2 separate regions of the Homo sapiens genome follow, and region 2 is linked to region 1. The links come from fine-mapping of genetic effects on gene expression. A gene starts in region 1. The other region holds a variant in brackets. All regions are shown on one strand. Distances are between the middles of the regions. Region 1 holds the start of AP3B1 (adaptor related protein complex 3 subunit beta 1). Region 2 overlaps AP3B1 (adaptor related protein complex 3 subunit beta 1).

Region 1 (4,404 bases):
ATTCGATTTTTTAAAAGGCAAGTAATATTACGGTTTTATAAATGAGAAAATGTGGACTCAAGAGAGATTTAATGACCACTTCCAGAACAGGGGTCTCCTTGTTTCTGTACAATTCCATTAGACTGCAGGTCAATAGCCAAATGTTTCTAATCCCTGGAAGCTTCTCTGGTGGTACTACTTGGAGCTACTATTTAAAGTTTTAAACTTTTTGTGAGTTGTATGCACTCACTAATAAAAATACCATACATTTCATCAAGTAGTAAGTAGCACATCTAAACTTTTGAGAGAATGGGCTCTAATATTAGAGCCCCTGAGTTCAAATTCAGGCAGTGCAATGTTCTACCTTTGTGGCCTTTTCCAAGTTAACAACCTTGCTCCAATTTCCTCACGTGTAAAGTGGGAGCAGAGAAGTACCTGGTAATAACCTGCAGGGTTGTTTAGGAAAACTGAATGAGATAATAAATGTAAAGTGGTGTGCACAAATACTCAATAAATATCTTTCGGGGAACACAATTCAACCATGGTTATTTGCATATATTACATATCACCTCTAATCAATTAGCTACTTTTATTTTAAATCCAACCTGTTAGGTCACCTCAAGAGCACTGGTCACAGAGTCAAAGCCGTAAGTTTTTTTTGTTTTTTTTTTCCAAATCAGGTCCAAATTTGACAAAAATCTTTTTCTTTTTTTTCTTTTTTTGAGACGGAGTCTCACTCTGTCGCCCACGTTTGAGTGCTGTGGCGCGATCTCGGCTCACTGCAGCTTCCGCCTCCCGGGTTCAAGCGATTCTCCTGCCTCAGCCTCCCGAGTAGCTGGGATTACAGGCACGAGCCACCACGCCCGGCTAATTTTTGTATTTTTAGTAGAGACGGGGTTTCACCATGTTGGCCAGGCTGGTCTCGAACTCCTGGCCTCAAGCGATCCGCCCACCTCACCCTCCCAAAGTGCTGGGATTACAGGCGTGAGCCGCAGTGCCTGGCCCCAAATCTGACAAAAATCTAAGAGAAAACATCGTAGATGTTCACAAACCATAAAAGTAAATTAATTTGCGAAACAGATTGATGCCGATATACAGGTTAATTCAGTCTAAACATTTTGCTAATAGTAGAGGCAACAAGCTCCGTACTTGTTCTAGAACAATGGATCATCAAATGCATATAATGAAAAATGAAATCAGTTACCTTACTTTTAAACTTTTCTAACCTTGGGAAAAAGGAAAAGATTGTATCTTACATGCTATATATATGATTTTGATCCTCAATACAGCCAAAATGTAATCCCAATTTGAAGTAGTAGCACTTTCTAGACTACCCAATATTGTTAGTAACGTTTAATTTAAATTTTAATTATACCCTCTAACAGATCTGCAAAGCTACTAGCACAGCTATTCTACCTTAATTTAGCATGAATTTAGTGACAGACTATTATGTGACCCTATTGCTTAGTAATGAAAGATTTAAAATAAGAGAAATGTAAAAATGATAATTCTGGTAAATGTAACCACTACCACCAACCCACCCCCCAAAACAAACAACTTGGGATTTCTTTCCATTTCTCGGTGATACTTTTTACAAAACTAAGTGTACCTTGTTTAACATTCGTTTTTAAAATTCACATTATTAATCTGTAAAAGTTTTGGATTTGTTCACAGTAACACTCTTTTAAAATATTTTCTATTCATATGCTTATTTTGGATTGGTGTTTTTGTCTGTAGTGCAAAGGACATAATCCAAGAACATTAATACTGGTGTAAACCAGTTTGTCCATTCAAACAGCCTAAATCCACCTCTCTGCTCCTACACTCCGGGGTCACAAAATAACTTCCCACAAGCAACACTCGCACTCTCACCTTCACCAAAACACTCCTTTCACCCTAATCAGGGAATGTATTAAAGTCTGATCCGGCGAACGGTAAATAAACTAGAAGACGATGCTCAAAATTCAGACTCCTGAGCCCAGCCCAAGTCCAATTCAATCAGTGTCTTCAGGGGTGGGATCTAAGCTCACCAAGTGGTTTCCTTTTCACTAAAGTTTGAAAACTACTAGAGACCCCTACACACATTCGCCCCAAACTCCCACAACTCCCACCACCGCCAACCAACCCCACCTACCCACCCGCGGGACACGTTACCGCCCTGCCCTGCTCAGACCTCAGGGCGACCCCGCTCCTCTCCAGGAAGCCCACCCTGGCGCCCACTCCTCCGAGTCCGCAGCTCCTCCCTCCCATCCCCGCAACCCAAACCTTTCTCCTCACTTCTTCAAATCGCTGCTAAAGAGGCCGAAGGCCCCCGAGGGGGAAATGGTTGAGGTCGCCTCCTGACCCAGCTCCGTCGCCTCCCCTCCTCCGGACTGCTCATTGTAAGGAAAACTATTGCTGGACATTGCCGCGGTGCTGGCGGGTGCGGGGTTGGTCCTGCCGGGGGTTCTCTCCAAAAGGTTCCAGTCCAGAGGGCACGGAACAAAACTAGTTCTCGTACGGAGGAGCGCGCGCAGGCGCTTCCGGACTCGTCACGGCTCCCTGAGCCGACCTGGCAGTCCACCCCCTGCGCATGCGCAGTGTGCAGGCCTGCTAGATTACCACCCGGGCCATCCAGGCCTGCGCGGACTTTCCTGCTCCGGGCTTTAGAGGTAGCTGAGCGGCTGCGAGCCGGACTGCGGAAGGGGAGGCAGCGGGTGGCTAACTGCCCGGCTCCCGGCCCGTTTGAGGTGTGTCTTTGGAGAAGGATACCCATTGCATCCGTTTTGATCCGTTAAGGAGTTTCCAGAGCCCGGACAGCTCTTTGCTATACTTCAGTAAAGCAATAGTTTTCAGATTTCTCCGGAAATGCCATTTAGCACGCCAGATCACCTTTCCTAAACCCATCACGATCGCTTTTCCTTTTCTTGCTTGTTTCGGCTACTCTCTTCCATCCGGCTTTGCCTTACTTTCATATCGGTCCCAAACAACTTTTCTCCTAGACTTTAAGGAGGCCTCTCCCAACGATGGTTTGGAGGATCCGCACAGAAGCGACCATTCCATCTTTTCAATGAAAGTCTTGGGGGCAGACCGGGCGCGGTGGCTCACGCCAGTAATTCCAGCACTTTGGGAGGCCGAGGCGGGTGGATCACTTGAGGCCAGGAGTTCGAGACCAGCCTAGGCAACATAGCGAGACCCTTTCTCTGCAAAAAATATAAAAATTAGCCGGCGTGGTGGCGCGTGTCTGTGGTCCCAGCTACTGAGGCTGAGGTGGGAGGATCACTCGAACCCAGAAGGAGGGGGTAGCGATGAGTTGAGATCTCTCCACTGCATTCCAGCCTGGGCGACAGAGCGAGACCCTGTCTCAAAAAAATGAAAAAGAAAAGAAAACATCTTGGGGCCACCAGTTCCCGTTTGGAGCTGAAGTGGTGCGTCCTATTGGCGTCTAGCTACCAAAAATAAAATGGACCACCTCGCGCGCCAGTCGTGTTACTCACTAATATGCACTAGGGAGCCTAGGCGGGATGCTTGCCTGGCCCCAGAGTAGCTCTCTCCGGGTGCTGGCACCCGAGAAAACCTCTTTCCCGGGGTGCCTTCCCCCAGCCCGCCTTCTCAGGTGGGTTTCAGCGCCTTCCCTCTCTTCTCCCCAGTGCCTCCCGTCCAAGGAAGGCATTAACACCCAAAGCCCTGGCGGCCAGGTACTGAAACTGTCAAGGGATTCTACCAGGTAGAACGCGAACCTGGAGGCCGGCCGCCCCAGGGAAGGCGGTGGGGCGTTTTCAAGGATGAGAGTATGATCTCCAAATTTCAAAAGGTCACACTGTCACTGTGGAAGCACGCAAGAGCGTGGCTCTGGGTGGGAGAGGAAGGGACGTCCTCCAAACTTGATCGTCTGGTCAAATATTGGCAGGTTTTTAATTCAGCTGTTAGAATACTCCTCCGGAGAGCCAATGATGAGCACCTAAAATGTGTTATTTGTCAGTATTAATTAATAGAATTTCACCTACAACTGACTATTGATGATGAGGATGAGGATGATCATAGATAACTATATATTATTATATAATCCTTAATATATACCAGGATATAAGTAGTTTTATATATATTAAAACTTCTAAGTAGTTTTATATATATAAATAGTTAAAGTAGTTAACTTTTAATATAAAAAAATTTATTTTAAGTTAAAATAAATACTTTTAAGTTAAAATAGTTAACTTTTAATATATATTAAAAGTTCTAAGTAGTTTTATATATATTAATAGTAAAAAGAGCTAGGCTTTGATTACTTTATTTGTAAAATGAGAACATTGATATACACATAGCCTGGAAAATCTCGGACACATACCTGATTACAGAATTTCTTGGTTTTAGAGCATGTACACTTTTACCAGATATCCTAAATTTTTTTCCAGCATACTTTTAGCAGTGGATAATCTTCTTTCTTCA
Region 2 (4,404 bases), 170 kb before region 1:
TTACTTGCCATGTGAACTTAGGCGATTTACTTTAAGTTATCTAAGACTTGGCTTCCTCATCTGCAATGTGGGAATAACAATAACCATCCCTTACAATCATTATTAGGTTTAAACAAGATAGTTTTTATAAAACATTATCATCGTACACTGTCAGGGGTTCCTAAATAGTGCTATTATTAATTCCGGCCATGCTTCAAAGCCAGGATAAGTTGGAGTGGTTAAGAGAAACATTTAATAATTTCTCAGAGGAATCAAATTACATGGCCATGATCATTATAGAAATTCTATTTATTAAAGTAATAAAGGTTTTCTTCCACTGTATACAGAAAAATTGAGAGCAAGGAGGTTAACTCACTTTCCCACAGGAATTAGTAAAGAACCCCAGTTATCTGAATCCTAATTCAATGTATCTTTTCCACCAGAAAAGTATCCAGAATACAATTCTTAACTGCTTTTTTTGTTAACTCCACATTTTAAAGTATTAAATATATTTTGCATAATTGCTAAATACAATTAGAAGGCCTCTCTCACTTTTTCTTGTATATATGAGAAAGAAACAGATAATATTAGAAAAGAATGTTAATTCTTTTATCTCAATGGCCAGCATTTTTTTTAAAGATTGAGAAAAAGAGTATTTATATAGCAAATTTGTTTTTGATGAGAAAGCACCATATTATTCACTTTGTGACCTTGTCAAAGGACATTTTTGGTACACAATGCTCCCTATTTATGTTCAGGCTTCACTTAAAAATGGTTCATCAAAAAATCTAGAACACTTTGTGTGGTTTTTCTGAAAGAGAACAGCAGAAATTATTCAGAAGGATATTGTCAGGAAGCTTACAAATCTCTAAACAAAGTAGAAAAAACTTCATCCAATGAAACTAAATACCTTAGAAATTGAATCTACGCGGCTACAAATGCAATAGCACAAATGTGGGTGGCACTGATGCAGAGAATTCAGTTCTCTATTTCCTTGAAGAAAAGGAACAGTACATGTACAATGGCATAGGAATACTATAATATTTAGTTGCTATAAAGGCAAGGTATATCTAACACATTACATTTAGAAATACTAGAACAATTTTCAATTTTCAACTCTCCAAAAAAGCTTTTATATAAAACAATAGCTATCCTAGAGTCTTCCACTGCTTTGGCAAAATTAATTTCAGAAAGGTCAACTTACCAACTCTATTACTTCTACATTTCGAACTGATGGGTCGGGCGCCACCTCTGGCCAATTAGATAATTCCAGGTACCCAGTAGCTTTAATGTTGAGAGTATGAGATAAGGTGCCAAGCTGGAAATGATCTCTATCTATTAAAAATAGGGAAAAATATAAAATAAACAATATGAGCTGTATATAACAGAGAACAATCATAATCAGAGCTCAAGGTAATTGGCATATTACCTCAAATGTCAAGGAATAAATATAGACTAGGAAGCTCTTCATAGGTCAAAAAACTGATTTCAGTCCATAGATTACAATAATCTCCCCCATAATGGTCAATAAAAAAGCTAATCAGTCAGTGTGTTTAGAGGTGTTGCTCTGAAATGTAGCTTCTCTAAAAATTACTTTACTGTGAATATTAAGAATGACAGCACAGTTAAACAATCCATATACATGTCTTGGCACAAACACATCCAGAATTTTAATAGTTTTTCTACAAAACTGAATTGCTTTTTATCGCTTTAAAATAAGAACATTAAATAAGAAACAATATGAAAACCAAGGTATGTAACTATTTGATTCCAACTGGAATGGCTACTTGTAAGGTGGTAAAATACTTAATTACTCCTTTTAAAAAGCTGGGACACGTAAGTCAACTTCCCTCTTTGAAAAACCAGTTTAAATATAGAGGGATACTTTTTATAAAATAATTCCTCCTAGAAAAACTGATATTAGTGTACACAGAATATTTACTTAATAACTCACTATTAAAAGGAATTATATTTCTTATAAAACTATTTAAAAGAGAAATGAAGTCATTATTTATAAGAATAAGACAGTTTTCATCTATTGCCCAGTTTAAATGTTAGAATAAAGTCAGAACGCTTAAAATTATTTAGTAAATAAGGTCTACAAAAATATAAACTTTAATATAAAACTTGCTTTTGAGAGCAGATGAATGAGTAGAAAGCATGCTGTTCTTATATATTTATATATGCGAATCATTTATATTTCCTAAGAGATAAATTTTAAGCACATTAGAAATGGCAACATCTTGTCATAATTTTTTAGATAACATATATTTTGGAGTTATATTCTGATAATACCTTTAAAAGGAGACTCAAGCAGTGGTGCAGGCTTTTGTGCTAGGAATATTTTTTTGGCATATTTACTTAAAGCTCCACTCTTT[A/T]CATTCGGAACAATAAGCTGCCTAATAAATCTTGTACGGTCTCTGATGTCGTAGTTTTGATCATACTTGCCGAGATTTAATATGTACTGGGTAAGCAATTTTGTCTGTTGGAAAAAAACAGATCAAGATGAGAATACAGTTATTTATGATTATCGATAACTCTGGATAAACATATTTAAAGAGGTAATAAAAATGAATGGTTATGTCAAACAAATGTTGTTCCATAGGGAATACACATTTCTAATGCTGCAAATGGAATTTTGAAGCCAAAGCACATGTCCTCTTCTGTACTGGGTAGGTGAATGCTGAGTATTGAGAAGCAGCCATGTGCTAGATTATTAAACTGCTGAAGTGGAAAGAAAGGCATCATTAAAAAAATAATCATATATGGCAAACCCGCTGAAGGGGTCTACGTGAGAATAATGAATGTGGAAATACAACTAAAAACATGGCACTCAAAACTTAATCGGAAAAATATGCAGGACATCAAAACATCAGAAAGTATTAGGGGGCTGGCAAACTGCTTCTCCTGAGGTGTGTTTTATGAAGAGATACTGTCCCTGGCATAAGCAGTGTCTGCACTCTGACTGCACTCAGTTACTTTACCCTGAATTATGACCCATTAAAGCAGACACATGAATCACTGAACTGGATTACTGCAAATTATTTGCAGTGCATTTAGCTGTTACTTTTTCATAAAAGCAAGCTGCTGATGCCCTCTGAAAACTAGGATAAAAGACTTCTTCCATTTTTCCCCCAAGCTGCTTATAGCCTCTAGTAATATTGGTCATTTATTTATTTATGTAAGGGAACAACTTATTATAGTAGCTTTTACACCATAATAAGACTTCCTAAGTCAATTTTTGAATGTACTACATTAACATATATTGAAATAATTTTAATAATTAAACCAAAATTGAAATGTTAACAAAACAGGTTTGTATTTTAAACTACAGTTATTTTATTGAAAAAGCATAGTTTTAACAAGAAGGCTACATGTGTACAATTTTAACTATAAGCCAAATAGAATTCATAATATATGGGAAAAATAAACCGAGAAACACTAAATCATTTACTTTAGATTAGAAGATTTTATGCACATTAGAAGCAGATAAAAAATAAAATCAATCAAGTTAGGCAGAGCTAAAGACAATTCTAGAACAATAAGTCAAAGTACAGAAATGGTGTGGTAAACTCTTTTACAATAATTGCTTAAGATAATTGATTTGATAGAAAGCAACCTTATTTCAGTAGCAGAGTAGTTAAAAAGGATTAACCCAGTTTTATTAAAGTAGAATTATAAAAAATACAAGTGAAAATGTTAATAGAGCTATTCTGAATTTGGTTACCAACAATTGCTATTCACTAATTGCTAGACCATGCTGGTTCAAGTACAGGTAAGAAAATTTCTATGATTCATTTTTTAAGACAATTTGCAAAGTATTCACCAAATGAGGAATACAATTCAAAACCAACTTAAAAGAAAATGTGGTACACTAAACCATGTAATTAATTTGCTGGAAAAACCTGGGAAATCCACTTAATCATTAGTTTTCTCAAATGTGGAGTTAGAATTTACAACTTGGTTAACTCTAAAGTCCATTTGAGTGCTGAGATTTTAAATCTGCAACTAAAATAAAGAAAGAGTCTCTTAATTGCAATGATTTTTTTGAGCTAGCAGAATGATACATTTGGCTTATATTTCTTAGCCCAAAATTAATTTTTAGGAAATTAAACATTTTCAATATGTTAACAATTTTGAAAGTTAGGTAGGGCATTTAAAGTAATTAAAATTATATAATTTAAAAATTTTTATTGACTGTAAAATGTATTATATTATAAGCTTATAAATAAGTTTTATTAAAATGTATTTTCAAAAATAACATTCTTTCTAAAAGATAAAAACAAATTTGTGTACAATGATGCACTAAAACCATAAGCAGAATAGTTATTCACCACACATTTACATACATTAATCAGTTTCTTCAGTGTATGTATCTAGTAACAAGGCATTAGTATTTCTCTGGAGAATACATTTTTATATGGC

What was found. PIP is the estimated chance that this variant, and not a neighbour inherited with it, causes the effect.
Region 2: its variant is fine-mapped to the expression of AP3B1 in whole blood (TOPMed, PIP 0.96). The same link has a PIP of 0.9 or more in lung.

Annotation. Positions count from the first base shown.
Region 1 is chr5:78,292,196-78,296,599 of GRCh38, forward strand. It overlaps AP3B1 (adaptor related protein complex 3 subunit beta 1), which reads right to left and starts at 2,503. Exons shown (of 27, transcript NM_003664.5): 1 at 2,257-2,503. The coding sequence starts at 2,384. RefSeq lists enhancers at 2,766-3,339, 3,714-3,763.
Region 2 is chr5:78,126,847-78,131,250 of GRCh38, forward strand. AP3B1 (adaptor related protein complex 3 subunit beta 1) reads right to left here. Exons shown (of 27, transcript NM_003664.5): 16 at 2,275-2,461; 17 at 1,184-1,314. Among named protein-coding and RNA genes, the nearest start is that of AP3B1, 170 kb to the right of the region's middle. The variant A/T (reference allele first, on the strand shown) is at 2,358.